4 linked regions of the Homo sapiens genome follow. The protein of the gene in region 1 interacts with the protein of each later gene in a pairwise test. Each region holds a gene or a part of one and is shown in the gene's direction. Other genes may lie near its edges. The genes, in order: ZNF655, FADS2, HPCAL1 and GUCD1.

Region 1 (7,941 bases):
CCAATGCATTTCAGCGCATATACCATATTCTGAAGAACTGCTCCCAACTTTGCAAGGCATTACATCTTAATCGCAATTTAGCCCAGTCTTCAACAGGCCATTCCAAAACCCTATCTGGCTAGCTGCTTCTGGATGATGAGTATGCACCATGAATTTTGTAGCTTCGAGTTCACTGTCACACCTCCTTGGCTATCGGTGGGTTCCTTAGTTTCAGGTATGTCAATGGATAAGGCACCCTGTAAGCTCTCAGATGGTGGTGCTGCTGGAGGCAAAGTAGTTGGGGAAGACAAGCTCATTTAGAGCATATATCAATTCTGGTAAGAACAAATTGATGCCCATTCCAAGGTAAAAGGGATCTGATGCACTCAACCTGGTGGTAGCTGGTATCTCTAAGACTCAGTGTTGGTCTCTAATGCTGGCAGGCTGGACACTCCACCATGGTGAGAGTTACATCAGCCTTGGTAAGAGGTAGACCATATTGGCCGGGCACGGTGGCTCACACCTGTAATGTCAGCACTTTGGGAGGCTGAGGTGGGTGGATCACAAGTTCAGGAGTTCGAGACCAGCCTGAGCAACATGGTGAAACACCGTCTCAACTAAAAATACAGAAATTACCTGGGTACGGTGGTGTGTGCCTGTAGTCCCAGCTACTCGGGAGGCTGAGGCAGGAGAATTGCTTGAACCTGGGAGGTGGAGGCTGCAGTGAGCTGAGATCACACCACTGCACTCCAGCCTGGGCAACAGGGCGAGACTCCGTCTCAAAAAAAAAAAAAAAAAAAAAAGAAAAATAAGAGGTAGCCCATATTGTTGGGACCACGCACAGCCTCTATCCCTGCTACCATGGTCTCTGTTCATAAGCCTATTGCATAAACAATAAGATGGTCCCTAACCAACAAGCCAAGCCATTCATCACTGCCTAGGAGTCAATGCATATCCCTACCTTAGGCTACCTCCTCCAAAATATGGCATGGGTGACCAAATGTACCATTGCTCACTGAGATAATTTTTCTTCACCAGTATGCTTCAGGGCAACGCGAGTGGGGCTGTAATGAAGAACAGTCTGTTTCTGGAAGATGCCAACATGCTGAACTGACCCAATCCCCAATCTGTGCAGAGGCCAAGGCTCTTCTGTCTCCATCAGTTAGTTGTAGGGAACTTTTATAAGGCCATAGGAGTAAGTTTATGGGAGAGGTGGCAGTAGAGCAGAGGTAACTGACCTGGGAGTTTGGAAACGTGGGTTTTGTTTTTTTGCCTTAGAAGGCATGACCTTGCTCCAGAATCTTAGGTATTTGTGCTGTGACTCTTTATGATGGGTTGAATTGTACCTCCACCTCATCCCCAATTAACAGGTTGAAGTTCTAGCCCCTAATACCTCAGAATGTGAAATTATTTGGCAATAGAGGCATTGCAGATGTAATTACTTCAAGATGAGGTCATAGTGGATTAGGGTGGGTCCCTCATCTAATGACTGGTATCCTTATAAAAAAGGGAAGTTTAGAGATAGTACACAGGGAGAATGCCAAATGAAGATGAGGGTAAAGACTGGGAAAATGCTTCTTACGATGCCAAGGAATGCAAAATATATCCAGCAAATCCCCAGAAACTAGGAGAGAGGCATGGACAGATTCCTTCTCACAGCCTCAATAGGAACCACACCTTAATTTCTGACTTCTAGCCTCCAGACTGTGAACCAACAGATTTCTGTTGTTTAAGCCACCCAGTTTGTGGTACTTTGTTATAGGAGCCCTAGCACACGAATGCACACTCTTATTGGGGTTTGCCAGCAACTCCATACAGCACCTGTATCCATCAAGGATATTTCTGGAACCACTGAATTTGCAAGTAAGCTTGCACTGTTGCTTGGATTTACTATAGAGTGCTCTCTTGCCCCAATAAAAAGTGGAAGCTGGCCAGGCATGGTGGCTCACGTCTGTAATCCCAGCACTTTGGGAGGCGGAGGTGGGTGGATTGCTTGAGGTCAGGAGTTCAAGATCAGCCTGGCTAACATGGTGAAACCCCTCCACTACTAAAATACAAAAATGCTGGGCATGGTGGCGGGCGCCTGTAATCCCAGCTACTAGGGAGGCTGAGGCAGGAGAATTGCTTGAATCCAGAAAGCAGAGGTTGCAGTGAGCCGAGATCACGGCACTGTACTCCAGCCTGGGCTACAGAGCAAGACTCCGTGTCAAGAAAAAAAAATAGTAATAAATAAAAAGTGGAAGCTTTTTAGGTCACCTAATACATGTGTTGGAACAGTTTTCTCAGGTGCAGAATATGCTACCTCCCAAATCCAAAGGGGCCCACCAGGACCTGTACCAATTTTTTTGGGATTAGAGGGTGCAAGGTGGAACAACTTTCTTTTACCTTTGGGTGATGTCCCCAAACCACTGGGCCCCACCAAAACTTCATCCATTTGATAAGTGCCCATATCTTCAGGTTTCTGTACTGCCTTAGTAAGAAGTCTTACTAGGATATTTATGACCCTTGTCACTTGCTGCTCACTGGGTACTACTAGCATTTGTCATCAATATATGGACCATCATGATGGTTGGGTAAAGTTCCTGCGGACTACACTGTGACAGAGAACAGGTCTCAGGATCCCACCCTCTCCCTGTATGAGCCACGACTTTGACTCAGGGGACCTGCCGAGTCTGCACAATTGGTCTCCTTTACATTACTGTCACTGTTACAAACAGATCCTCGGCCTAATTTTCAGCTTAGCTAGATGCAGAATTACCTTAGTAATTTATAAAAAATCAGCTATTGTATGTATCTAGATCTATTTCTGGACTTTTTTTTCTTTAAGAAATTCAACCTCATATTTCTGGACTTTCTGTTCTGCTCTGTTGATCTATTTGTCTCTATGCTGATACCATACCATCCTGATTACTGTACCTTTAGGAAAAAAATCTTAAAAAAATACAAGTATTCCAATTTTATTCTTTTTCAAAATTGTTTTGGCAATCCTAAATCCTTAGCATTTCTATATAAACTTTAGAATCAGTTTGTTAATTTGCACTAAAAAAAACAAAACAGGCTCGGTGCAGTGGCTCACGCCTGTAATCCCAGCACTTTGGGAGGCCAAGACGGGCGGATCACCCGAGGTCAGGAGTTTGAGACCAGCCTGGCCAACATGGTGAAACCCCATCTCTACTAAAAATACAAAAATTAGCTAGGTGTGGTGGTGCCCACCTGTAATCCCATCTACTCTGGAGGCTGAGGCAGGGAAAATGCTTGAACCTGGGAGCTGGAGGTTGCAGTGAGCTGAGATCGCGCCACTGCACTCCAGCCTGGGCGACAGAGCAAGACTCTGTCTCAACAACAACAAAAAGACAAAAACGAAAAAAGGTAACAATTTTTTGAGTTGTTTCCACCTCTGTCATCTGGCAAACTGTTAAAAGAAAATTTTGCTCAAAAGCAAAATAGCAGCTGCTGTTTCTTAACACTTTGTTATGTTTTGATGAGTACTGGTGGGAAGTGGCCTCTTTAAGTGGGTACCTTTTGTGGTCCTCTCACTGGAGCCAATTGCCTGAGTCAGCTAAAACTTGGACGCGATGTGCCTCACTGCCATAGCTCACTCACCTTTGCTGCTGAAATGGTTTCCCATCACATTGCTAATAGGTACAACCTGTGAAGGGTTCTAGGTGGGGAAATGGCAACTCAGGAAGAACTCCAAACCTTTAGCTCTCCTAGGATATTAAAATGGCCGTTATGAAGAGGAAGAAGTACTGTGTCATCTATTGTCCTGGGGACCTGTCAACAGGAACAATAGATAGACATCACCAGGGGTGTATTTCTGTTCAACACAAGGAAAAGTTTCTAATTGGAGCTGTCCAGCATGAAATGGACTAAGCAGTGCATTTTCTTTCTCCGATCCTGACTCCACTGTGACGGGCACTGCAGACTAGAGAGATTGTGTCCTAGTATGAATTTAGGTTGGATAAATGATACTTAGGGATAAAGAGAGGAAAGGAATATCAGAATCTCCAAGAAGCTGATACATTTTGAAAAAATATATAAAATGCCACACTTCAGGTTTTCTTGTGTTTAATTTGAAACGTCCAGTAACATTAAAGAACAGCATTTGATTTGCTTAAACAAAGTAGTAACAGCTGAAGTTCCTTCCAAATCACTTTTCTGATTCTCTAAGAGGCTTGCCTATGCCTTGCAGATCTAGCTTCACCTACAAGACATATTCTGTAAGGATCCAGGTTCAGCAAGGTGTCAGAATGTCCTAAGGGTTTCTGTCCCGGCGCTCTGCCTGTCCCGCTTGTGCACAATGCTTTTGCCTATCCCTGTTTCTGCATAGATTTTAGTCTTCCCACCAGGGACGCAACTGTCAGTTTCCTCCGTCTCTCTCGGTTCTATTCCAATCTGCTCATCTCCCCTCCCGTCCCCGCTTTCCCCAAGGACCTACTGAGATTTCGATCCCACAACTTAGTGGGTCCCATCTCACCCAGGCCCCGCAATCCTCGCCTTCTACTTGTCAGCGTTGTACTACACTCTGAGCAGGCACCCCTGTGCTACTCACGGAAGCGGGACCATTAGGTCGGCCATTCCTCCTCACCCCACGACACGCACCCACTGGGTCGGGCCGCCTCCTTGCAGGGAGTCTCAAGGATGGGCTGGCGTCAGGGAGGGGCCCAGGGGGCGCTTTCCCAACACTGGTCGCAGTCATTGTTGGTATAACGGCTAGAGACGCCCAGTGAGTTAGCATGGAGGGCAGTGGGACCGGAAAAAGACGTGGAAAAGCTGCGAAAACGAGCCTTCGAATCATGGACGCGCGGGCCCAGCTCCTCCTCCGAGTTCCTCATCCGGGGCCGTCACTCACATCCGGGGCCCTCACTCACATCCGGGACCCTCATCCGGGGCTCTCACCCACATCCGGGACCCTCATGCCTGGGCGGAGGAGGGGGGGCCCTCATTCGGGACCCTGCACTCCGTCGCCGGAAGTGCCACCGAGAAGCGCCGGCCTCGGGGCTGTCTACAGCGGCCCGGGAGAGGCTGTGGTGGCCCCGAGCGCGAGTGTGTAGGTGACAGGACAGCGGCCAGGCCCGCCCCTCCCCTCGGTGAGTACCCGGAAGCCGTTTTGGGGTCGCAGCGGGGTGGCAGCTTGTTTTGCCTTCACGGGAGTAGAAGGAGGCGGCGTCCGGCCGCGGCCGACGGTAGTTCGCTTCCCCGAGAGTGCGCGGAGGCCCGGGTGCGAGGAGGGCCTGTTTCTCTTCAGCCCTGGTTCATTCACCTCGCGGACCGAGGGCCCCGCCGTCAGGAGCCGGCGACCGTGCCCTGGTGCGAGCTGGTCTGTATGTCCTCACTGGTCCTTTTGGGACTTTGCCTTGGCCTAAAAGGGAAGTGGGAGGAGGGCAGCGCCGGGCAAGGCCTTCTGAGGACCGAGCTGGGAGCCGGGCAGGGGCCCAGGGCGAGGGTGGTGGGAGGGGGACGGCACCCTCATGCGTCCTTGGGCCTGAAGGACGCCGCTCAAACCTGTTCGAACCGCAGCTCTTACCTGCGTTGCTCTCAGGATTCCGGGAAAAGGCCGGTCTAGCTGGTCTGAGTTAGCGAAGGGCCTGACCCCAAAAGTGGAGTTTTATTCGCCAAGCCCGTGTAGTAAATCGGAGTGGGCTGACGGTGTTACCAAGACATTTCCTAGGGGGCCTGCTGTTTTATTTATTTAAATGAGTTTATTTACGTAAACGCGGGCCTGTCACGGTGGTTCACGCCGTAATCCCCGCACTTTGGGAGGCCGAAGTGGGAGGATCGCTTGAGGCCAGGCGTTCGAGTCCAGCCTGGGCAACATAGCGAGACTCCCATCTCTGCTAAAACAAAATTAAAATAAAATGAGCAATCATAACTAGCATTTTTCTCTGGGCACCAACTTGAGCCTCCAAAGACGATTGTAAATTTTAAATATTTTGTTTTGTTTATTTGAGGTGGGCTGTCACGCTGTCATACAGGCTGGAATGCAGTGGCGCAGTCATAGCTCACTGCAGCCTCTACCTCCCAAGCTCAAGCGATTCTCCTGCCTTGGCCTTTGGAGTAGCTGGAACTACAGGCCTGGGCCACCTAATTTTTTTTTTTTTTTTTTTTTTTGTAGGGACGGGGTTTCACCATGTTGTCCAGGACGGTCTGGAACTCCTGAGCTTAAGGGATCCACCCGTCTGTGCCTCCCAAACTGTTGGGATTACAGGCTTGAGCCACCGCACGTGGCCAATTTTAAATATTTTAAAGTTTCCACAGAAAGCTTTACACTATTAAATTGTACCGTGTTAATTTTTTTAATGCCACAAATTCCAAATTAGAGACTCTTCTATGATTTGGTTCTTAAGTATTTAAAGCTGAAGCATATCCATATTTCTTTTTCTTTTTTTTCTTTTTTTTTTTTTTGGGACGGAGTCTCACTGTGTTGCCCAGGTTGGAGTGCAGTGGTGCAATCTTGGCTCACTGCCACGTATGCCTTCTGTATTCAAGCAATTCTCCTGCCTCAGCCTCCCGAATAGCTGGGATTACAGACCCGCACCACCACGCTGGCTAATTTTTGTATTTTTAGTAGAGAAGAAGTTGCACCATGTTGATCAGGCTGGTCTTGAACTCCTGACCTCAAGTGATCTTCCCGCCTCAGCCTCCCAAAGTGCTGGGATTACAGGCCACTGCGCCTGGCCCCATTTTTCTGTTACTTATTTAGGGTGGTTAATCATTATCAACTAATTTTTATTGAATATCCATAGTGTGTAAGATCCTTTGCAAAGTCCTGACGATATAAAATGATGAAATGCTTTAACTTATTACAGTAATTTCTCTTAATCTTACCTTGCAGTGATGGTCATTGTCCTCCAGAGCAGTGATGGAGGAAATACCAGCCCAGGAAGCAGCAGGGTCACCAAGGGTCCAGTTTCAGTCTTTGGAGACCCAGTCTGAGTGTCTGTCCCCAGAGCCTCAGTTTGTGCAGGACACCGACATGGAACAGGGACTCACTGGGGGTAAGGCAGAGAAAGCACTTCCGTCTGGGAGAGTGGGAGTGCGGAGGGGCTCCCGAGGGGGCTCCTGGGCCTGGTTTGAGAGAGGCCAAGAACTGGAATAAGAACATGGTCCCTAGAGGGAGGAATGAAAGAGGGGGCAGATGTGACTCAGTTCAGTCCTAGTCTGAGCCCCTTTATTAAGGATAGCTCATCTTTCTCAAATAAGCAGAGTGATGGCTGCTTACTCGCTGTGGTGGTTTTTCCTTCAGGCAACCTTCACTTCATCCCAGTTCTCACATCCAGAATAATTTCTAAGATATGCTGCTTTTGCCACATCTCACAGTCCTTTCCTGGCTCTCACTTCCTCTTAGGTTCAGGACCTTTCTTTCCCCTGTTCCCTTCACTTAGTTTTTCTTTGCTTTGTCACCTGCCATCCATTCTGTTGTAACTGCAGTGTTTTGTGACTAGACTAAATTTGGTCAAGGAAGCAACCATTTAATTCCTTGGTTGAACACAATGCCTGTATGAATGTATATATACTGTATTTTGACTACGCAGTCACACTTTGCTGTATCGTATAGGTAGGTTGGTCTTTTTCTTCCTTTGTTTTATAAGAGCTGTGTCTTAGATTGCCTGTGGTTAACTCTAGTGCCTGAAATAACTTGTGTGTCACCCACACAGATCAAGTGCCACAATGTGTAGAGTGCTGTGGGGGATTGTGGGACTGTGGAAAAGATTTCGAGGAAACAGATGACCCTTTCTTGTTCTTGGGGGCCTTACACACTGGTTGAGACAGCACCCATTCACAAGAGAAACGCTGATCAAGTGTCTAGAACAGTGCCTGGAAAGGGTCAGAAGTCTGCTAAATAACCCTAGCCCAGGACAAGTCCCCACAAGTCTTTATGCTTTGCTTTGCCCATCTGCAAAACAGGTATAGTCTTACTCTTCTGTAAGAGGACTGTCATGTGATGAAGATAAAGTGAAA
Region 2 (7,027 bases), on another chromosome or scaffold:
CAAACTCCCAACCTGAGGTGATCTGCCCACCTCAGCCTCCCAAAGTGCTGGGATTACAGGCGTGAGCCACCGCGCCCGGCCTGTTGATTACTGTTTTATCGCTTGCTAACTGAAGTTGTCCTTTTCACCCTGACTGTGAATTTAAGAGCAGCCAAGTCAAATTTTATCTCCAAGTCTTGGACCCATATATCCAATCTAACTCCATTTGGAGGTGTCCCAGCCATTGCAAATCCAACATATTCAATGTAAGTCCTCTCCTCTTCTCCCACAACCTAATCCTGATGGTCTCCATGTTAATGAATGGCTCCATCATCCACCCAGTGGCTCAAGTTAGAGACTAGCACCATTATGTTTTTTCCCTCCTTATACATGTTACACCCTCTCCTTGCCTCTAGCATCCAATCCCGTTCTAACTCATAAGTGGCCTATTGCCGGGCGCAGTCACTCATGCTTGTTATCCCAGCACTTTGAGAGGCCGAGGCGGGCAGATCATGAGGTCAGGAGTTCGAGACCAGCCTGGCCAGCATGGTGAAACCCCGTCTCTACTAAAAATACAAAAAATTAGCCTGGCATGGTGGTGTGCACCTGTAGTCCCAGCTACTCAGGAGGCTGAGGCAGGAGAATTGCTTGAACCCGGGAGGCGGAGCTTGCAGTGAGCAACTTCTTTTTTTTGTTTGTTTTTGACTGTGCTTGTTCCCTAAGGAACAAAGTATTAAACAGGAAAAGAAATCACCCTATGTTCCTAAAAGGGGATGGCAGAGTGGGGACAATGTGATGAGCCCATGGGGCTTTCAGAGCCAGGAGCGCACCTATGACCTGGGGCACTGGTTCTCAGGGGAGCTGTTCTGCCCTTTGGCAGTATCCGGAGACACTTTTAATTGTCACAACTTCAGGAGAGGAGGGTGCTACTGGCATCTGGTGGGCGTCTAGCCAGGATGGTGCTTAGCACCCTGCCATGCCCTGGAGAACCGCCCATGACAACAAGCAGCCTGTCCCAGGTGCCAATAGTGTGGAGGTTGGGGGACCCTGGCTTAGAGGAAAGAGGTGACAAACCCTAAGATCTTTGAAGGAGGCTTCCCGGGGAGATTTACATGCTCTGGCAAGGTTCCCTGTTCCCGGGGCCACGTCCTGGATCCTGAGATGCTCCCACGCTTCACCCTCCTGGAATTTTGCTGTATCTGACACCACTGGCCACTCCCTCTTGCAGTTCTTCCTGTTGGCTTCCAGGTCCCCACCTCTGCTGGCTTCTTCCCAACCCCCTCGCTCCGCCTCTTTGGCTGCTTCTGATCTCTTGGGCTCTCTGCCCCTGAAACCAGCGATCTCTGTGTATGTGTTGCTCTCTACACTCAAAAGAAGTCCAGGCCAGGCATGGTGGCTCACGCCTGTGATCTCAGCACTTTGGGAGGCTGAGGTGGGAGGGATCACCTGAAGCCAGGAGTTTTGAGACCAGCCTGAGCAACATGGGCGAAACCCTGTCTCTACAAAAAGCTGGGCGTGGTGATGCGCGCCTGTAATCTACCTACTTTGGAGGCTGAGGTAGGAGGATGGCTTGAGCCCAGGAGTTTGAGGCTGCAGTGAGCTGTGATCACACCACTGCACTCAAGCCTGGGCAACAGAGTGAGACCCTGTCTCTTAAAAATAAAAGTTGGGCCAGGGCAATGGTTCACACCTGTAATCCTAGTACTTTGGGAGGCCAAGGCTGGAGGATCACTTGAGCACAGGCATTCGAGACCAGCCTGGGCAAGTAAGTGAGACCCCCCCATCTCTATAAAAACTTAAAAAAAATTATCCAGGTAAGGCCAGACACAGTGGCTCATGCCTGTAATACCAGCACTTTGGGAGCCTGAGGCAGGCGGATCACAAGGTCAGGAGATCGAGACCATCCTGGCGAACACGGTGAAACCCCATCTCCACTAAAAATACAAAAAATTATCCGGGCGTGGTGGCGGGCACCTGTAGACCCAGCTACTTGGGAGGCTGAGGCAGGAGAATGGTATGAACCCAGGAGGTGGAGCTTGCAGTGAGCCAAGATCACACCACTGCACTCTAGCCTGGGCGACAGAGCGAGACTCCCTCTCAAAAAAAAAAAAAAAAAACAGAAATTAGCTACTCGGGAGGCTGAGGTAGAAGTATGGCTTGAGCCTGGGACAGAGTCATGATCACACCATTGCACTCCAGCCTGGGCAATAAAGCAAGATCCCATCTCCAAAAAAAAATAATCCGTAACCCCATCCTCATTTTGTTTCCATATATGTGTAGATACACTGCACACTATTGCACCACACACACAGAATAGAAGGAATGTGATGGAAAGTGGGAGCAGAACTGGCTACATCTGCCTCCCTCCTCACCTTGAAGGCCACCTTATTGGAACGTGAGGTCCTGCCCTCGGCCAATGTTGGCCCCAAGGCCATCTCCAGCCTCTCCTGAGCGCTCCCTTCCTCCTTTCCTGTTCAGCTGCTGGCACCCGACCCCTGATCACCTAGGACCAGCCTAGATTCCCCACAGCCAAGCAGGCACAAATGCAGCCACCGTTGCCTCTGACAGTTCTGGAATCTGTCACCTCCTTGTCAGTGCCGTGGGTTCTGGTTTAGGCCTCTGTCATTTCATGTCTGAGCCGCTGGAATAACTTCCTAGTCTCCCCCTCTCCAGTGGGTGGGGATCTATTTTAAGACACAAATGTGACCTTGTTCTTCAGTCGTTTGAAGTGAGACAGGGCAGTCCCTTGGCCTCACCTTCCACCTCGGACACCTGTGCTGAGCCTGTGGCATGTCACCATACCTAAACTCATGGCAGGATGAGCGCCCTGGCAGTGGGAACAGGCCATGCAGAGGCCCCGGGGAGGGAGTAAGCTAGGTCAGGGGGCTGAGTAAAGACAGGTTCTTAACCCCATGAGGCTCCGTGGGTGACTGGGTGGGATGGGGGCTTTAGCAGGGGAGAGTTGGGACCTGCTTGGAGCGAAGGCCACTCTGGTTGCCATGGCCACGAGGACAAGCAGGAGACTGTGGGAAGCTGATGCTGTGGTCCAGTTGAGACAAGACTTGGGTGGCAGAGAGACAGTGGACAGGGTGGAGCCGTGAAGTCACCCTCCCAGTACATGAGAGAAGACGTCCAAGCCCAGTCCCTGACACCAGTCCAGCCAGAGGCAGGGAGGAGAGCAGAGTGGAGGGACACAGGATGACAGTGGGGCGTGGGGAGGCCAGCCTCTGCTGTGAGAGCTCTGAGATAGGGACGATGGTACCTCTGACCTTCCCTACCCCTCCAAGCCCTCTGTCCTGCTGGAAGGAGATGCCAGGAGGAGACCCAGGTGCTGAGGAGGAGGGACAGGACTGGGGGACGGTTGGGGACCTGGCCCCGGGTTGGGGGCGCACCTTCAGAATCGCCCTTGCCCCACGAGAGGGCTGCTGACCCCCACCCCTACCCCATGGCTGCCCCTCAGCAGGAGGGTCCGTTTCTCTCCCGAAAAACAGGGCACAGTCACTTCCTGATGCTAAAACACTCAGCATTTCCCTAGAAACAAAGGCAGCCATGCAAACCCCGAGCAAGCAGGTGGCGTGTAGTTGCCCATTGCATTTCAGTGGGCTGCGGTCCAGCTTCTAGAGGCCTGAGTGTGAGGTGTGTGCACATCTGGGGCACGCACTTGGTGCCAGGGCAGAGGAGAGGGCAGGTTGCACCTAACTTCATCTTTCCCCGCAGGACCTGGCCTGGGCCGTCAGCTACTACATCCGGTTCTTCATCACCTACATCCCTTTCTACGGCATCCTGGGAGCCCTCCTTTTCCTCAACTTCATCAGGTGCCTGGGCTTTGCTGATTCATCCCTGGGCCCTCCACTGGCACTGATGATGGCTTTGGCATGAGAAGAGGCTCGGACGGCTCCACTTTGCCTGGGGACCTCCCATCCTGGCCCCTTGGCAGGGGCTGTCCTGGGCTGGTTGGGAGAGTGGATCTGTTCCCACTGTGGCTGGGCCCCCGGAGGCCCCTGCGCTGAGCTGTGTTCTCTTGCAGGTTCCTGGAGAGCCACTGGTTTGTGTGGGTCACACAGATGAATCACATCGTCATGGAGATTGACCAGGAGGCCTACCGTGACTGGTTCAGTAGCCAGGTAGGGAAGTCAGGGCCGGTCACCAGAGCCTGGTCCCAATGTCCATGTCCTGGCCCCAGATGATCTGCACCTGCTAACACAGGGCTGTGCTGGGCCTCCCGGGGCTGCCTGTGTCCTTTTGCTGGGAGCTTCAGGGCTGAGCAAGAAAGGGCAGCAGGAATCCCCCAGAGGGACAGGTGGGGCATCTGGGTGGGCTGAGGCCATCAGGCAGGACGGTATGATGTGGACGGGTGGCCTGGAGACCCTGGGTAAGGCTGGGCCCCCTGGGAATGAGGCCGGGCCCTTGGGCCTTCCTTTGTTCCCTGACACTCATCCCCTCCACTGACAGCTGACAGCCACCTGCAACGTGGAGCAGTCCTTCTTCAACGACTGGTTCAGTGGACACCTTAACTTCCAGATTGAGCACCAGTGAGCGCGGGGCTGCGGGGAGGCGGGGAGACCCACAGCGGGAGGGAAGTGGCCGCTATCCCACTGGGCAGAATGCAGAATGTGGGGGCCACCTCTTTGTCTCTCTGACAAGGTCTCTGCCCAATATAGAGCAAGGCTCCCAGCCAGCCCCGCTGAGGTCAGGAGAGGGGCTCCCCTATTCCATCTCCCTGAGGGTCATCCTGTGCCCCTCATGCTGTGCCACTTGGTCATAGTGGTTACCACCTCCCTCCATGTGGGCCTGGGACTTTGTAGTTATGGAGCCTGCACACGCACCTCATGACCCTGTGAGGCTAGCAGGGCAGGGCTACGTAGCTTGCCTGGAACATCGGCCGAGGGACTGCCCTGCTGCCCCTTGTCCTTGCTTCACCTCTTGTCACTGTTTTTTTTTTTTTTTATTAAAAAATAAAAAATGTAGAGACAGAGTCTCACCCTGTTTCCTGGGCTGGAGTGCAGTGGTGCTTTCTTGGCTCACTGCAGCCTCGAACGCCTGAGCTAAAGTCATCCTCCCACCTCAGCCTCCTGAGTAGCTGGGACTGCAGGTGCGTGCCACCATGCCCAACTAATTTTTTCTTTTTTTTTTTACTTTTATTTATTTATTTATTTTGAGACAGAATCTCACTCTGTTGCCCAGACTGGAGGGCAGTGGCGCAATCTCGGCTCACTGCATCCTCCACCTACCAGGTTCAAGCAATTCTCAGGCCTCAGCCTCCCACGTAGCTGGGATTACAGGCGTGTGCCACCACGCCCAGCTAATTTTTGTATTTTTTAGTGGAGACGGGGTTTCACCATGTTGGCCAGGCTGGTCTCAAACTCCTAGCCTCAAGTGATCCACCTGCGTTGGCCTCCCAAAGTGCTGGGATTACAGGTGTGAGCCACTGCACCTGGCCTAATTTTTTATTTTTATTTTTTGTAGAGAAGAGGTCTTGCCGTGTCGCCCAGGCTGATCTCAAACTTCTGGCCTCAAGTGATCTGCCTGCCTCGGCCTCCCAAAATGCTGGGATTACAGGCGTGAGCCACCGTGCCTCACCTCACTGCCTCTTTTCCTAGCATTCCCCAGCTATTTCATTTCTTTTTTGAAAAACATGACACTTTGTCTCTGGCCACCCAATATCTTCCCAGCTCCATAGAGCACAAACGCCCTCCTGCTCACGGAGGGCTGCACCCTCCCCTCCACACACGTGGCACCCCACTGGGCACACACGAGGAGCCACACTTTGAGACTGGTCCTGGCTGTGGACAGGGTCTCTGAGGGCCCCAGCCAGCCTCTGCCCAGGTGGTGGGAGGAAGCGGGAGCAGCATGGCCCTCTGAGTCCTCACGCTCTGCCCACCCTACACACTCCTCAGCCTCTTCCCCACCATGCCCCGGCACAACTTACACAAGATCGCCCCGCTGGTGAAGTCTCTATGTGCCAAGCATGGCATTGAATACCAGGAGAAGCCGCTACTGAGGGCCCTGCTGGACATCATCAGGTGAGGGGTGGAGGTCCACAGGCGCTGGGCCCTGGGATCACCCGTGGTGCAGACAGTGGGATCACAAGAGGGGCTGGGCCCTCCTGGCACAGTCACCCACCAGGGCACCTGCCTTACTCCCGAGCCTGTGTTAGGAGCTGTTGGGCTTTTCTCCCTGGGCTGCGAGAAGACCATCCCTTTCTGTGTGGGGTTCCTGGTGGGCTCTGAGCTGACAGCCCCACAGGCCCAGTGGCAGTGGTAAGCCCTGGTTAGGGCCAAGGGGACATACATGCCACCTTAATGATGGCCTCCTCAGCCCTTGCACTCCCTGGGGCCACTCCCGTCCTGGTCCCTGACCCTGGTCCATCCCCAACTTTGCAGGTCCCTGAAGAAGTCTGGGAAGCTGTGGCTGGACGCCTACCTTCACAAATGAAGCCACAGCCCCCGGGACACCGTGGGGAAGGGGTGCAGGTGGGGTGATGGCCAGAGGAATGATGGGCTTTTGTTCTGAGGGGTGTCCGAGAGGCTGGTGTATGCACTGCTCACGGACCCCATGTTGGATCTTTCTCCCTTTCTCCTCTCCTTTTTCTCTTCACATCTCCCCCATAGCACCCTGCCCTCATGGGACCTGCCCTCCCTCAGCCGTCAGCCATCAGCCATGGCCCTCCCAGTGCCTCCTAGCCCCTTCTTCCAAGGAGCAGAGAGGTGGCCACCGGGGGTGGCTCTGTCCTACCTCCACTCTCTGCCCCTAAAGATGGGAGGAGACCAGCGGTCCATGGGTCTGGCCTGTGAGTCTCCCCTTGCAGCCTGGTCACTAGGCATCACCCCCGCTTTGGTTCTTCAGATGCTCTTGGGGTTCATAGGGGCAGGTCCTAGTCGGGCAGGGCCCCTGACCCTCCCGGCCTGGCTTCACTCTCCCTGACGGCTGCCATTGGTCCACCCTTTCATAGAGAGGCCTGCTTTGTTACAAAGCTCGGGTCTCCCTCCTGCAGCTCGGTTAAGTACCCGAGGCCTCTCTTAAGATGTCCAGGGCCCCAGGCCCGCGG
Region 3 (6,865 bases), on another chromosome or scaffold:
AAGGGTGCCATGATCACTTAATGGCAAAAGGACAGCTTTTTCAACAAATGGTGCTGGGAAAACTGGATATCTACATGCAAAAGAATGAAGCTGGACCCTTACCTAACACCATATACAAAAATTAACTCAAAATAGATCAAAGACCTAAAAGTAACCTAAAACTATAGAATTTTTAGAAGAAAACTTGGAGCAAAATCTCCACAATGTTGGATTTGGCAGTGATTTCTTGGATATGACATTAAAGACACAGACAACACAGAAAAATAGACAAATTGGATTTCATAAAAATTTGGTGCATCAAAAAGCAAAATCGGGCTGGTGCGGTGTCTCACGCCTGTAATCCCAGCACTTTGGGAGGCTGCGGTGGGAAGATCACTTGAGGTCAGGAGTTGGAGGCCAGCCTGGCCAACATGGTGAAACCCCGTCTCTACTAAAAATACAAAAATTAGCCAGACCTGGTGGCGCACGCCTGTAGTTCCACCTACTCGGGAGGCTGAGGCAGGAGAATGGCGTGAACCCACGAGGCAGAGCTTGCAGTGAGCCGAGATCACACCACTGCACTCCAGCCTGGGTGACAGAGCAAGACTCCGTCTCAAAAACAACAACAACAACAACAACAACAACAACAACAACAACAACAACAAAGTGCTGGCGGTGAGGATGTGAAGAAATTGGAACCCTGTGCACTGTTTGGCAGAATGTAGAATGGTACACTGTGGAAAGTATTATTATGATGCTTCTTCAAAAAATTAAAAATAGAATGACCACATAATCCAGCAATTCCACTTCTGGGTATATACCCAAAACAACTGAAAATAAGATCTTGAAAAGATATTTGTGCACCCATGTTCGTCGCAGCATTATTCATAATTGCTAAAATGTGGATGCAACCCAATGATTTCTTGACAAACGAGTGGGTAAACACAATGTGGTATACACACACATGGAAATATTACTCAGCCTTAAAAAGGAAGGAAATTTGGACATACACTACATCATAGATGAATCTTGAGGACATTATGCTAAGTGAAATAATCCAGTTGCAAAAAGGAAATACTGTATGATTCCACTTATGTAAGGTATTAGAGAGGTAGTCATTATTTAATGGGTATAGAGTTTCAGTTTTACAAGATGAAAAGAGTTCTGGAGATGGATGGTGGTGCTGGTTGCACATCATTAATGTATTTAATACCACTGAGCTGTTCACTTTAAAAGGATTAAGATGATAAATTTTATGTTATGTGTATATTATAATAAAAGTTAGAAAAAAATTGTCATAAAACTAAGTCAGATATTAAGAACAATCAGAATTACTTCTGTCTTGTTTACAGTCATCATATGAAAAACAAATTGTTTATCTAGCATGACACCTGTTATGGGTTGAATTGTTTCCCTCAAAAGATGCTGAACTTCTAACCCTTGGTACCTGTGAATGTGACCTTATTTGGAAATTGGGTCTGCACAGATGATCAAGTTAAGATGAGGTCATTAGGGTGTGCCCTAATCCAATAATGACTGTGTCCTTATGAAAAGGGAAAAGAGACAGGTATATAGAGAAGATGTGAATTCACAGGGAGCGCACATGGCCATCCATAAGCCAAGGAATGCATGAGGTTACCAGAAGCTAAGAGACAGACATGAAACAAACTGCCCCCCACATCTCTCCAAAGGGGCCAGCCCTGCCAACACTTTGATCTTGGACTTCCAGCCTCCAGAGCTACAAAACAACACATTTCTGTTGTTTAAGTTGCCCAGTTGGAGGTGCTTGTTACATTAGCCCCAGGAAATTATACAACATCTTACCTGAATTTGCTTTCTTCTTTGCTCTAGTTAAATTCAAAACTACATATTGAATAACGACGGTGTGCTCTCTCTCCATGAAGCTTCGGGGTGGGTAGACAGTCCTCCTCTTGAAGGAACAGGAGGGACGCAAGGGAAGGGACCAACTTGTATCTCATCTGAGAGAGATACACTCCTGGAATAAGAGGTCTGCGGTTAAGTGTGTTTCTCTAGAAGTTCAGAAACAGAGGAAGCATCTGCGGGCTAAGCTGCTGAGGGCTAGGTGAGAGCTAACTGACCTAAGTTTTGAAGGATGGATGGGTGACAGGTTGGAGGGGGAAGATGGAAAAGTCACATGGGAGAGGAACAGCATGGGCCAAGTGTGGAGGAACCAGTGAGTGGGCTGGGTTTCAGAAACAGGCCTTGGTCTGCTTTTGAGCCCTCCCTGAACTTTTCCACCCCAACCCCACCTCCTGCCTGTGTCTGCCATGCACCTCCCTTCCTGTGAGTCTGTGGACAGACTTTGCCCCTTTGCCCTGTGTGTGCTTGGGAGAAATCTGCTCAGTTTCTGTGGCAGGGATGTTTCTACGTGTTCATCAAACCGGCTTTGTTTACTTCCGAAACACTCATGAAGACCACAGCTGCCAGAGCCCCTTGCATCCTGGTGGGACTGTGCGACTACTTCTGGCCCATGGATGTGGGTGGAAGTGACGTGTGCTTCCCCAGGCCTGGCTCCTGGACCCCACCGACGGCTTCTCACCTGTAACCCCACCAGCCTTCTACCTGGATACTTCACGGGGAGCTAGAGTGGCCTTGGCTAAGAAGGAGGCATGGCACCCGCGGGTACCGGGCCGCCTTCATCAGTCGGTGCACTCTGGTCCACCGCCCACATGCCTTCATGTAATCTTCACTGTAGGGCCCACAGGGAGGGGAACTTCCTCGAGGTCTAGCTTTGCCTTTCCGCCTTCAGAGCCAAGTAAGAATGAGGGGTCTGGGCTCGGCCCACCTTCCCTGCAAGGCCCTGTGCCCGCTCCCCTCAAAGCTGGTCTTGCATGTTGCTCTGGCGGCCTCTGTAGCAGGAGTTCACTCTGTTTTCCGTGGAGGAGGAGTGGAAGGAGGGATTCAAGCTCTCCCCTAGAGACGCTAGAAAGACAGTTTTGTCTCAGCCTCATACGATCGCCCAGCTCCACATTTCTGGCTGTTTCTGTGGTTACCTTTCTTCGGGGATGTTTGGGGCGGGAGGTGGGTGTGTGTGTATATTTGCTCTTCTGAAGCCGTTTTTCCGGAGCTCCTGGTGGGGGTGGGGGTGCTCTGTCCCTGGTTCCTCTCGAGGCAGGTGCAGGGGATGGAGGATGCCCCCCTCCCCGAGAGCCAGGAGGCGCCGACCCTGGGCAGGAGGTGCCAGACCGGCGCCTCTCCCGCGTGGAGCTCGAAGACCACAGATGCCTGGAAGGGAGGAGCACCTTCCGTGGTTAGGTGGGGAAACCGAGGCAGAGGCGGCCCAATGGACTCGCCTAAACGGCCTGGGGAGTCACTGCAGGTAACCAGAGCTGGAGCCAGGCTTCCCACTCCAGGCCCGGGGCTCTCCCCCGAACAGGCGTGGGAAGGGGTGCGAGCTGCACGCGGGGCTGGGGCTGGGGGTGCGGGGCTGGGGCAACTCGGCTCTTCCCCTTCCTAGGCCGCCCGGGCCACTTCCTGCGGCGTGGGGGCGGGGGGCGCGGGCGCAGGGCTGGCCCCTCCCGGGCGCCGCCTCTCGGCCTCTTCTATACCAGCAGGCCAGAGGCCAAGGGTTAGGGGAACAGAACCGGTGCCCGGCTCCGCCCCTGTCCCGAAAGCCACTGGGGGCTGGGACCCGGCAGGGCCAGGTTTGGGCCGCGAGGGCCGAGGAGCAGCGAGGTGCAGGGGCTGCGAGGGCCGAGCCGGGCGCTGAGGGTCCGGCAGGGGGCGTGGAGGGGGCGGGGCCCGGAGGGGGCGGGGCCGTAGGAAACTTGAGCGCCCGCCTCTGGCCGCGCGCCCCGCCCCGGCCCCCGCCTCCGGGTCCCGCCTCCAGGTCCCGCCTTCGCGTCCCTTCCTTCCCGGAGCTGGCAGGCGGGCCGCGGCGGCGGCGGGCAGCGGACGGGCGGACTGACGGGCGCCTCCACCTTGCTCCCTCCCTGGCTGCCGGCTTCCTTTTGTCTTTCTGGGCGGCGATGAGCGCAGGGCCGGCGCAGCAGCTGCGGGCGCACGGAGGCCCGCGCTGCTAGTCACTCCTCCCGGCCTCGGCGCGCTTGTCCCGGGCAGCGGCCCGGGCCCGCTGCAGCCGCCGCCGGCGCCGAACTTGGGCTCGGGAAGCCGGCGGACCGCGTCCTGCGCCGGAGCAGGTAGGGAAGGGGCGGGCTGCGGTCTGCTGGCTGCTGAAGTGTGCCCCGGGCGTGTGCACCCGGCGTGTGCACCGGCGAGCGCTGCGATCCGGCTCTTTGCGTGTGTGTTGTGCGCGCGTGTGTGTGTCCGGGAGTGCCCGCGTTTCTCTGCGCGGTGGAGTTGTGGGTGACTGCGGACGGTGGTGTGTCTTTCGAATGGCGTGTACTCGTGGGCATCCATGTGTGCCTTAGGTGTGCACATTTTGGACTGCGTTTGTGGAATTGTGTGTCGGGGCGCAGTTGCTGGTGGGGAGCGGTGCCTGGCGGGTGTCGTGTGTGAGCAGCTGTGCGCAGAGCGGGGTGGCGGGGTGGGTGTGGGTGGTCCAGCCCCACGCCCAGAGCCCCCTGTCCCTGCTGGTCGGCGCAGTGCGTAGCTTAGGAGCCTCGAGGACAGCTGGGACCCGACGGGCAAGGGCGGGCCTCGCGGGCAGGCTGGGCAGCCCTCAGGGAACAGGTCCGTGCGGCCCACGTGGGTCGCCTGTGAGCTTCTGCCAAGGGTGGGGGCCCACGCGGAGGCGATCCGCTCGTTCCTCCCAGGGCCATGGGGCGACGAGGAGAGCCCTGGCCTCCCCGCGACCCGCACTGCGACCTGGGCCAGACGCGCCACCTTCCCCGGTCGCGGTTTGCTTCTCTTTAAAATGAGGACAGCTCCTCCCTTGGGGGCTGTGGTGACAGGTGAAATGAGAACGCACTGAAGACAGCTCTTGGTCCAAAGCCCCGCACACAGTAGGTACTGTGTTAATTGGATTAGCGTCTCCTGTTTAAAATCCTTTTTTTTTCCCCTTTATCGTGGGTGGGGCCTTACATTTTCCCCGGGCGTGTTTTGTGCCTCTCCCTGGCCCTAACTTAACCGCGAAGCACTGAGATTCGAGAAAGTTTAGCTGCCAGCTGCGCTGCCTCCTGCAGCACCTCCCGGGCGGCGCCGCCTCCGCGAGTGCCCGAGAGCGCCGCGCTGGGCGCCGGCCCTGCCCCAGCCCCCAGGCTCCCGCGCAAGCGTGGGGGTCCCTCTCCTGGCCGGGAGGCAGCGACTGCGGAGTTGAGAACCCTTTGGTTCAACAAGTTCCTAGTCCGGGAGGATGCAGCTCAGCTCGTGGAGTCCGAGAGTCACGGCGTAAAATTGGCGCTTCCCGCACATGCAGATCTCGGGCTCCCGGGGTGTCCCGGCCGCCAAAGGCCACCCCTTTCCTCCTGGCTGACCCCAATTCCACCAGAGGAGGATGTTTGCCAGGGACGCCGAGTCCAGCTGCTGGCCTCGGCATTAGACAACCCCCAGCCCCAGCCCCTGCCATCCCTGCTCCCTTGCAGCCAGCCTCATGCCGGGGGTGCCACATGGGACACCTCCTCCTAGTCCCACACCTTAATTTAAAACATTTACTTTTGAAACCTACTAGTCGTAAAATTGAACCGCAGTGAACGAGCACCCAGCTCTTACCACGACTCACTCTCTGGAGAGTTCTGGCGCCTCGGCGCTGGCTCGGACGCAGCAAGGCCAGCTCTAGGGGTCGGGTGGCTCTCGGCCAGAGCGAAGGATATTCTTTCCCTTCATCGCCTTGGTGTCTTTCTCTGGGGGAAAAAAATCGCCTTTAACCAAGGGAGCCAAGATCTCACCAGTGCAGGAGGCTCTCAAAATGGAGCGCCGGCATGGGGTTGGGCTGCGGAGGGGACAGCATGGGCGGCCTTTTGGTATGGATGCGCTTCCCAACTGTCAGGGGCTACGTGATGGTGTTCCCAGAGAGGCGGGCTGCTTTGCGGGCTTTTAGGAGCCAGGGATAGAAACCTGGTCCGGTTCCTTTGGTTTCCCTCGGCCGAGACTGAAGCCCTGCAATCCTAGCCATGGCAGGCCAGGGGGATGCGATGAACTCATTTTCTCATTTTTCATCCTGACTTAGTGACAGGGGCACACTTAGAATGCACCCTGTTTTCTGTTTCATCAAATGATTTTATGTCCTACAAGAAAAAAGGGCTTTTGGTGTGAATCCTACTCTTTCCTCATAATCAGGTTCCATAATAATATTAAAAAAAAAATCAGTCTGGCTTTCTCAGCTCAGAAGACAGACCCAAACCCAGGTTTGTGTTTTGTTTTGTTTTTGTTTTTTTCTAGTTAAAGCCAGCCCTTTGTCTCAAGCAAGCCAGTGTTTTGGCCTTAGATCTATTTCTGTTTCACTTTTGAAAGTGCCTGTAATTACTGAGCTCTTGAGGTTTTATTGGATAATGTGGCAAAGGGAAGGCCCGGGGGCCCTGCCTCTCCCTTGCGGTGGGATGTGGTGCCACGGTGGCACATTCTAGCCTTGCCTGCTCCCTCTGCGTCCCACTTTCATGCTGTTTTTAAGGTGGAACAGAAATGTCAATGTGTGATAACAATTTGGGAGACTTTGTCTTTGGAATCCAATAAATGGAAGGTCCTTTGATCTGTGGAGAAACCAGAACAAGTCAAAACCCCAGAAGAACAGAGATTTGCCCAAACTCCAGCCAATGACCCATTTATTTCCAACAAGCCCTCCTAGAGATAGATTCTAAGTGAAATACAAGAACGTGGACACACTCCGTCCCCTTTCTGGCCACAGGGCTGTGCAGAATTAGAAGTGCAGTCTATGGAAGGACAAGGACTGGACTTCGCTTGGTGCAAACGCCCCAGCCAGGCGCCCCATACTCACCTAGCACCATTTCACCCTGGAGCTGTTTCCTCC
Region 4 (5,228 bases), on another chromosome or scaffold:
TGGGTGAGCAGCCCCTCCAGCAAAGATGCAGGAGCCCCTGGCCTAGAGCTCCCCCTGCCCACAGCCCCATCTGCCCTCTGTCCCTCTGGGTGTTTTCTTTTCTTTTCTTTTTTTTTTTTTTAAGAGACAGGGTCTTAATCTGTCATACAGGCTGTAGTGCTGTGGCGCAATATTGCAATACAGCTCACTGCTACAGCCCCAGGCTTAAGTGATCTTCTTGCCTCAGTCTCCCGAGTAGCTGGAACCACAATCTCATACCACCACGCCCCACGCCTGGTAAATTTTTAAATGTTTTTGTAAAGACAGGGTACTGCTGTGTTGCCCAGGCTGGTCTCTAATTCCTAGTCTCAAGCGATCCTTCCGCTTTGGCCTCCCAAAGCACTGGGATTACAGGTGTGAGCCACTGTGCCCAGCCCTGCTCTAGGTTTTCATTTGGATTTGCTGCCTAGTGGAAGGCACAGGATGGGGCAGTGCCTTCTGCCAGTGAGGGAGGCTCCAGGTAGATGTCATTGCTGAACTGGAGCTCCCCTGGAAGCAATGTGGCCCAGCCCTTCCTGGGCAGCCCCTTCTGCCACCAGGAGCCTTAGAAAAAAAGTAAAATAGCTCTTTCAGAGAAGCATTTGGTTTTGAAAGTGTCTGAGCCATGCTTGGCTGGCAGTTTTCAATGTAAACCACACATGATTTAGGGTAGAGGAGAGACAGGGCTGGGCAAAAAGAATTCACTAACCAGGCTGGGGTGCAGTAGGAGGATGGTTTCTGTGTGCTGCTCTAGTGGCCCTTGACTGGACCCACCTGGAGCTGAATGCTCTCCCCGTGAAGGGCCTGACAGAGCCAGCTCATCTTTGTGCACATTCAGACACACACACACACCCCCCCCACCGGTCTCCTGCTTGGCTCTAGGCTGAGCCTGGGCCACAGTGACAGAGCAGGGAGTTCAGGGCAAAGGGAAAAGGAGCCGATCCCCAAGCTTTGTAACAGAGAAACAGGCACAAGCAGGGATCCATTTGAGGGATGGGGAATGGGGGCCCAGCAGCACCAGCTGACCCCCCTCCCGCCCACAGCACAGTGAGTGTGAAGGACATCCAGGCGCACCTGGCTCAGGGCCATGTGGCCATCGTGCTGGTGAACTCGGGGGTGCTGCACTGTGACCTGTGCTCCAGCCCTGTCAAGTACTGCTGCTTCACCCCCAGTGGCCACCACTGCTTCTGCCGCACTCCTGACTACCAGGGCCACTTCATCGTGCTGCGTGGCTACAACCGGGCCACTGGCTGCATCTTCTACAACAACCCAGCCTATGCCGACCGTGAGTGCTGGGTGGGGTGGGTGAGGCAGAGTGGTCCACATTCACTGTTCTGTATGCCCAGTGCCCACAGTTCCCACCCATTCAATCTAGTGTGGCCAGGGCCTCCCTCCCTACCTTTTCCCCAAAGCCCCTGCTCCTCCTGGGCTCTTGTCACTGTGGCCACCCCTCAGGCCATGCAGGCAAACCTGCCGCAAACTGTGCCAGCCTCCTCTACACCCTGGCCACCCCTCCCTCTCACACCACAGGCCCCACGCCACTGCCCAGGTCCCTGCCTTACCCTTTCATGCTGCCCAGGCTGCACCCCTCCCCCAACCACCAGGATGGCCGGCACATTCCTCAGAAAGAAAAGCCCGGCCAGACCCAGCCCCTGCTCTAGACCCATCCTGGCCTGCCTACTGCCCTCCGGGCACAGGGAAGGGCTGCCCTGACTCTCATAGACTGGATTCACATAGACAGCCCCTGGACGCCCTGACCACATAGACTTACCCCGTCTATGTGGCCTGGAGCACGTTTCTGCCCCTCTCTGGGCCTTTCTCCAACTGCTTTACTGGGGAGGAGTCAGAGAAACCTCATGAAGACCAGGATGGGCAAGGAGGGCTTCCTGGGGGTGGAGGACTTGAGTTGAGAGGAATGGCCATGTGGATGGGAAACAGACCTCACTCAGCTCCCCTGGGCACTGTGTCGGTGGTGTAGGTGCTCTCTCACAACCCACTGACCCCGTTCTGCCTTCCCCACCCCCAGCAGGAATGTGCAGCACCAGCATCAGTAACTTTGAGGAGGCCAGAACCAGCTATGGCACAGATGAGGACATCCTCTTTGTCTACTTGGACAGCTGACAGCAGGAGCCTGGTGCGCCTAGGCCCTCGGACCCCATCCCCACCCCAGCCGGGCCCGCTCAGGATGCCCTGGCCCAGGCTTGGGGCTGCTGGGGTTGGAATGTGGAACTGCAGCCTCAGCCCATCTGGCAGAGTCCCAGGAACTCGGAGACTGGCACAGCTGCTTTGTCTGCCAGTGCCGTGTGTTGTCATGTCACTCACCCCAAGCACCTGCTGGCTGCTGGAAGCATACCCCAAGACCCCAAGCCTTGACTCCAGCTGCGCCCACAGGAAGTCCAGTCCCGACAGTGCCCTTGTTGCCTTTGAGCCAGATCCATGGCAATGGTCTCCCCACAGACCGCAGGACTGAGCCTGGAGAGAGAAGTTGCTTGACGGATGCCACTTGTCAGGACAGTATGTGAGTGTCTGGAGACAGCATAGCTGACCCCAATCCCCCAGGGCTGAGGACCCCTCCAGGCCCCTCTCTCCTGGAAGTGCTGCATATGCCCCTGTGCCCAGTGGTTGATGATACCACCACCACCTGCCTACCCATGGGCCCAAGTTTCTGTGGCTCATTACAGGGCATCTGACCCCTGCCACCCAGCATAGACACACCTCACAGCTGCCCTGCCATGCAGAGCCCTGGCCGCTGGAGACTCTTAAAGCCCCCACAGCCCTCCAGGTCCTCCAGCTCTGTCAGATGGAGGGCTCTCGGGCCTAGATCCCACTGGTAGGCCTCGTGGCTGGCAGCAGTGCTCTGGGAATAAACAGCTGCCCTAGCCCCAGAGGGATCCCTGCACCCAGGAGGCCTCCTGACACCAGCCAAAATCCTGACAGCAGGGTCTGCCCTCTTGAGTGTGGGGAGCCCCTAGTCCTTTAAGGTTGGCTGCTAAGGCCTGTGCTCCAAAGCAACGGGCTGGGGCAGCCTGCAGCTGCCCACCCAACCTGGTCTTCACACCAGATTGCACAGGATACTGGGTCTTGTCTATCTTGATGGAGAAGAGGGGTTCCTGCCCAGGATCTTACAACACAGCAAGTAGCATAGAGCTCTTTCCTTCCTCTTTTTTGGGGAGGTTGGGGTCAGGGGTTGTTTCTTTGAGATTTAAGTTTTCATTTTTGAGGGGTAATCACCTTCAAGTAAAACAGTAATAGCAAGAGTGAAGGTACTTTGGAACCACTAACACCTCTGCACAGGGCAGTTAGCCAGCTCAAGTTCTTTTTCAGAGAAAGGGACTTGGCCAGTGGTTTAAGTACCTGCCCCTTCACCTCTCAGACGAGGCAGCTGACGAGGCAGCTGGCCCAGTCTTGGGAGTCTGCTCAGGACAGTGGTGGAGCTGGGTCTTGAACCCCAGTCTGCACCTAAAAAACTAAAGGAAATGGATTTTTTTTTTTTTTTTTGAGACGGAGACTCACTCTGTTGCCCAGACTGGAGTGCAGTGGCACGATCTTGGCTTACTACAACCTCCGCCTCCTGGGTTCAAGCGATCCTCCTGCCTCAGCCCCCCACTAGCTGGGACTACAGGCACATGCCACCATGCCCGGCTAATTTTTTTGTATTTTTAGTAGAGACCAGGCTTCGCCATGTTGGCCAGGCTGGTCTCGAACCCCTGAGCTCAGGTGATCCACCTGCCTCGGCCTCCCAAAGTGGGAAATGGGTCATTTTCAAAGGGGCAACAGTGATACCATCCCTGCACTCCTGGGTCCTGCTCTTCCAATGCCCAAGGCATGGCATGGTGGCAGCTGTGCCCCCGCCCATTGCTTTGGAGCACAGATGACTCTGGGGGCAGAGGTGGGCTCTGTTTAGGAGGGCAGTGAGACCACCCAGCCAAATTGCTTCTCAACCCTAGACAAAGCCTTTGGCCAAGAGGGAGGTGCTGTTAGTTGGGCAGCCCTTCTGGGTTTCAGAGACCGGTGTTGGCTCTAGACTGGTCTCATCTCCATTGCCTTAATGCCAGGTGGCCCAGGAGTACCCATGCACAGCAGCTGTGGGGTGTGGGCATCTTCAGGTGGTGTTCTGGTAAAATTGTTAGAATAGCTGTATGAAGGAAACCAGTGGGAGGAAATGAAGTTTTCAGGATGGTGGGATGTGATTTAGACAGTGCACATGCTGTTAGGGCTGTCACTAGGGAGTGGCCTTCATGGAGGGTGGTAACAGCACCTCAGTCCAGCCAAAATGTTTAGAAACACTCAGTCTCTGGTCCCAGAGGATGGCTTCTCAGGGCATGCCACAAGTTAAAGGTCACCTTCCTGAAAGATGAATGAGAAAGCTGCCCATTCTCAAGACTCATCTGCCTAGGGAGGGTCACAGAGGCAGGATGTAAGACACACTGTGTTGCATTCTTGCACAAGTCATGAAAATGGAGCCAGAGAGCCTGGACATCAGGGACTTTTGCCCACAGCACATGACACCGACAGCTGCCCAGCCTGTTCACATGCTGGGGACCAGCACAGCACCTGAAGCCATGTGGGACAGTTGGGCTTTGTTCATTCTAGCCACGGGGATGAAAGGGATCTTTTGCATTGCAGAGATTTTATATATATTTTGTTTGTAATGAGCCATTCTCAATAAACATTATTCTCACTGCAAAATGGTGGTAGCCCCTGGCTGGCCTTTATGAAGCTGTGTTGATCTGCAGAATTCCTGTCCCTTCTCAAGTTCTCAGCATGAGCACATGGGAACCCAGGTCCTTGTCTTGCCATACCCAGTTTAGCTGGGACTGGAATCCTGTTTTCTGTTTTCTAGGGCCATATCCATCCCGTTCAGGCCTGGATGCTTGTGCCTGTCCTGGACAGGCAGTACTAGAGGTAGAAGGGCCTCGGGGCTCAGCTCAAGTGAACTGCAACAAATGCAACTACAGGAGACACAACAGAATGAGGGAGATGTTGAAGCAGGAGAGACGAAAGTGGGTGGGATGGTGAGTGCTGGGTGGAGCTGGCTGCTCAGAGCATGCAGAGTTGGGGTTGAGGTAGACAGACCAAGAGTGCAGTAGTGCGATCTCGGCTCACTCCAACCTCCACCTCCTGGGTTGAAGCAATTCTCCTGCCTCAGTCTCCTGAGTAGCTGGGATTACAGGCACACACGACCACGCCCGGCTAATTTTTGTATTCTT

Evidence for each region.
Region 2: the proteins of ZNF655 (region 1) and FADS2 interact in binary tests that used the Homo sapiens proteins (3 or more experiments, as listed by UniProt).
Region 3: the proteins of ZNF655 (region 1) and HPCAL1 interact in binary tests that used the Homo sapiens proteins (3 or more experiments, as listed by UniProt).
Region 4: the proteins of ZNF655 (region 1) and GUCD1 interact in binary tests that used the Homo sapiens proteins (3 or more experiments, as listed by UniProt).

What each region holds. Positions count from the first base shown.
Region 1 is NC_000007.14:99,553,719-99,561,659, forward strand, and holds the start of ZNF655 (zinc finger protein 655), read left to right. Parts: upstream 1-4,923; 5' UTR 4,924-5,069; intron 5,070-5,106; exon of another isoform or gene 5,107-5,303; intron 5,304-6,814; 5' UTR 6,815-6,841; coding exon 6,842-6,977; intron 6,978-7,941. UniProt on the Homo sapiens protein: Probable transcription factor.
Region 2 is NC_000011.10:61,859,276-61,866,302, forward strand, and holds part of FADS2 (acyl-CoA 6-desaturase), read left to right. Parts: intron 1-3,696; coding exon 3,697-3,794; intron 3,795-4,006; coding exon 4,007-4,103; intron 4,104-4,431; coding exon 4,432-4,511; intron 4,512-5,876; coding exon 5,877-6,002; intron 6,003-6,362; coding exon 6,363-6,414; 3' UTR 6,415-7,027. UniProt on the Homo sapiens protein: Involved in the biosynthesis of highly unsaturated fatty acids (HUFA) from the essential polyunsaturated fatty acids (PUFA) linoleic acid (LA) (18:2n-6) and alpha-linolenic acid (ALA) (18:3n-3) precursors, acting as a fatty acyl-coenzyme A (CoA) desaturase that introduces a cis double bond at carbon 6 of the fatty acyl chain.
Region 3 is NC_000002.12:10,299,039-10,305,903, forward strand, and holds the start of HPCAL1 (hippocalcin-like protein 1), read left to right. Parts: upstream 1-3,865; 5' UTR 3,866-4,139; intron 4,140-4,661; exon of another isoform or gene 4,662-4,904; intron 4,905-6,865. UniProt on the Homo sapiens protein: May be involved in the calcium-dependent regulation of rhodopsin phosphorylation.
Region 4 is NC_000022.11:24,539,917-24,545,144, reverse strand, and holds the end of GUCD1 (protein GUCD1), read left to right. Parts: intron 1-1,061; coding exon 1,062-1,303; intron 1,304-2,044; coding exon of another isoform or gene 2,045-2,047; coding exon 2,048-2,139; 3' UTR 2,140-4,707; downstream 4,708-5,228.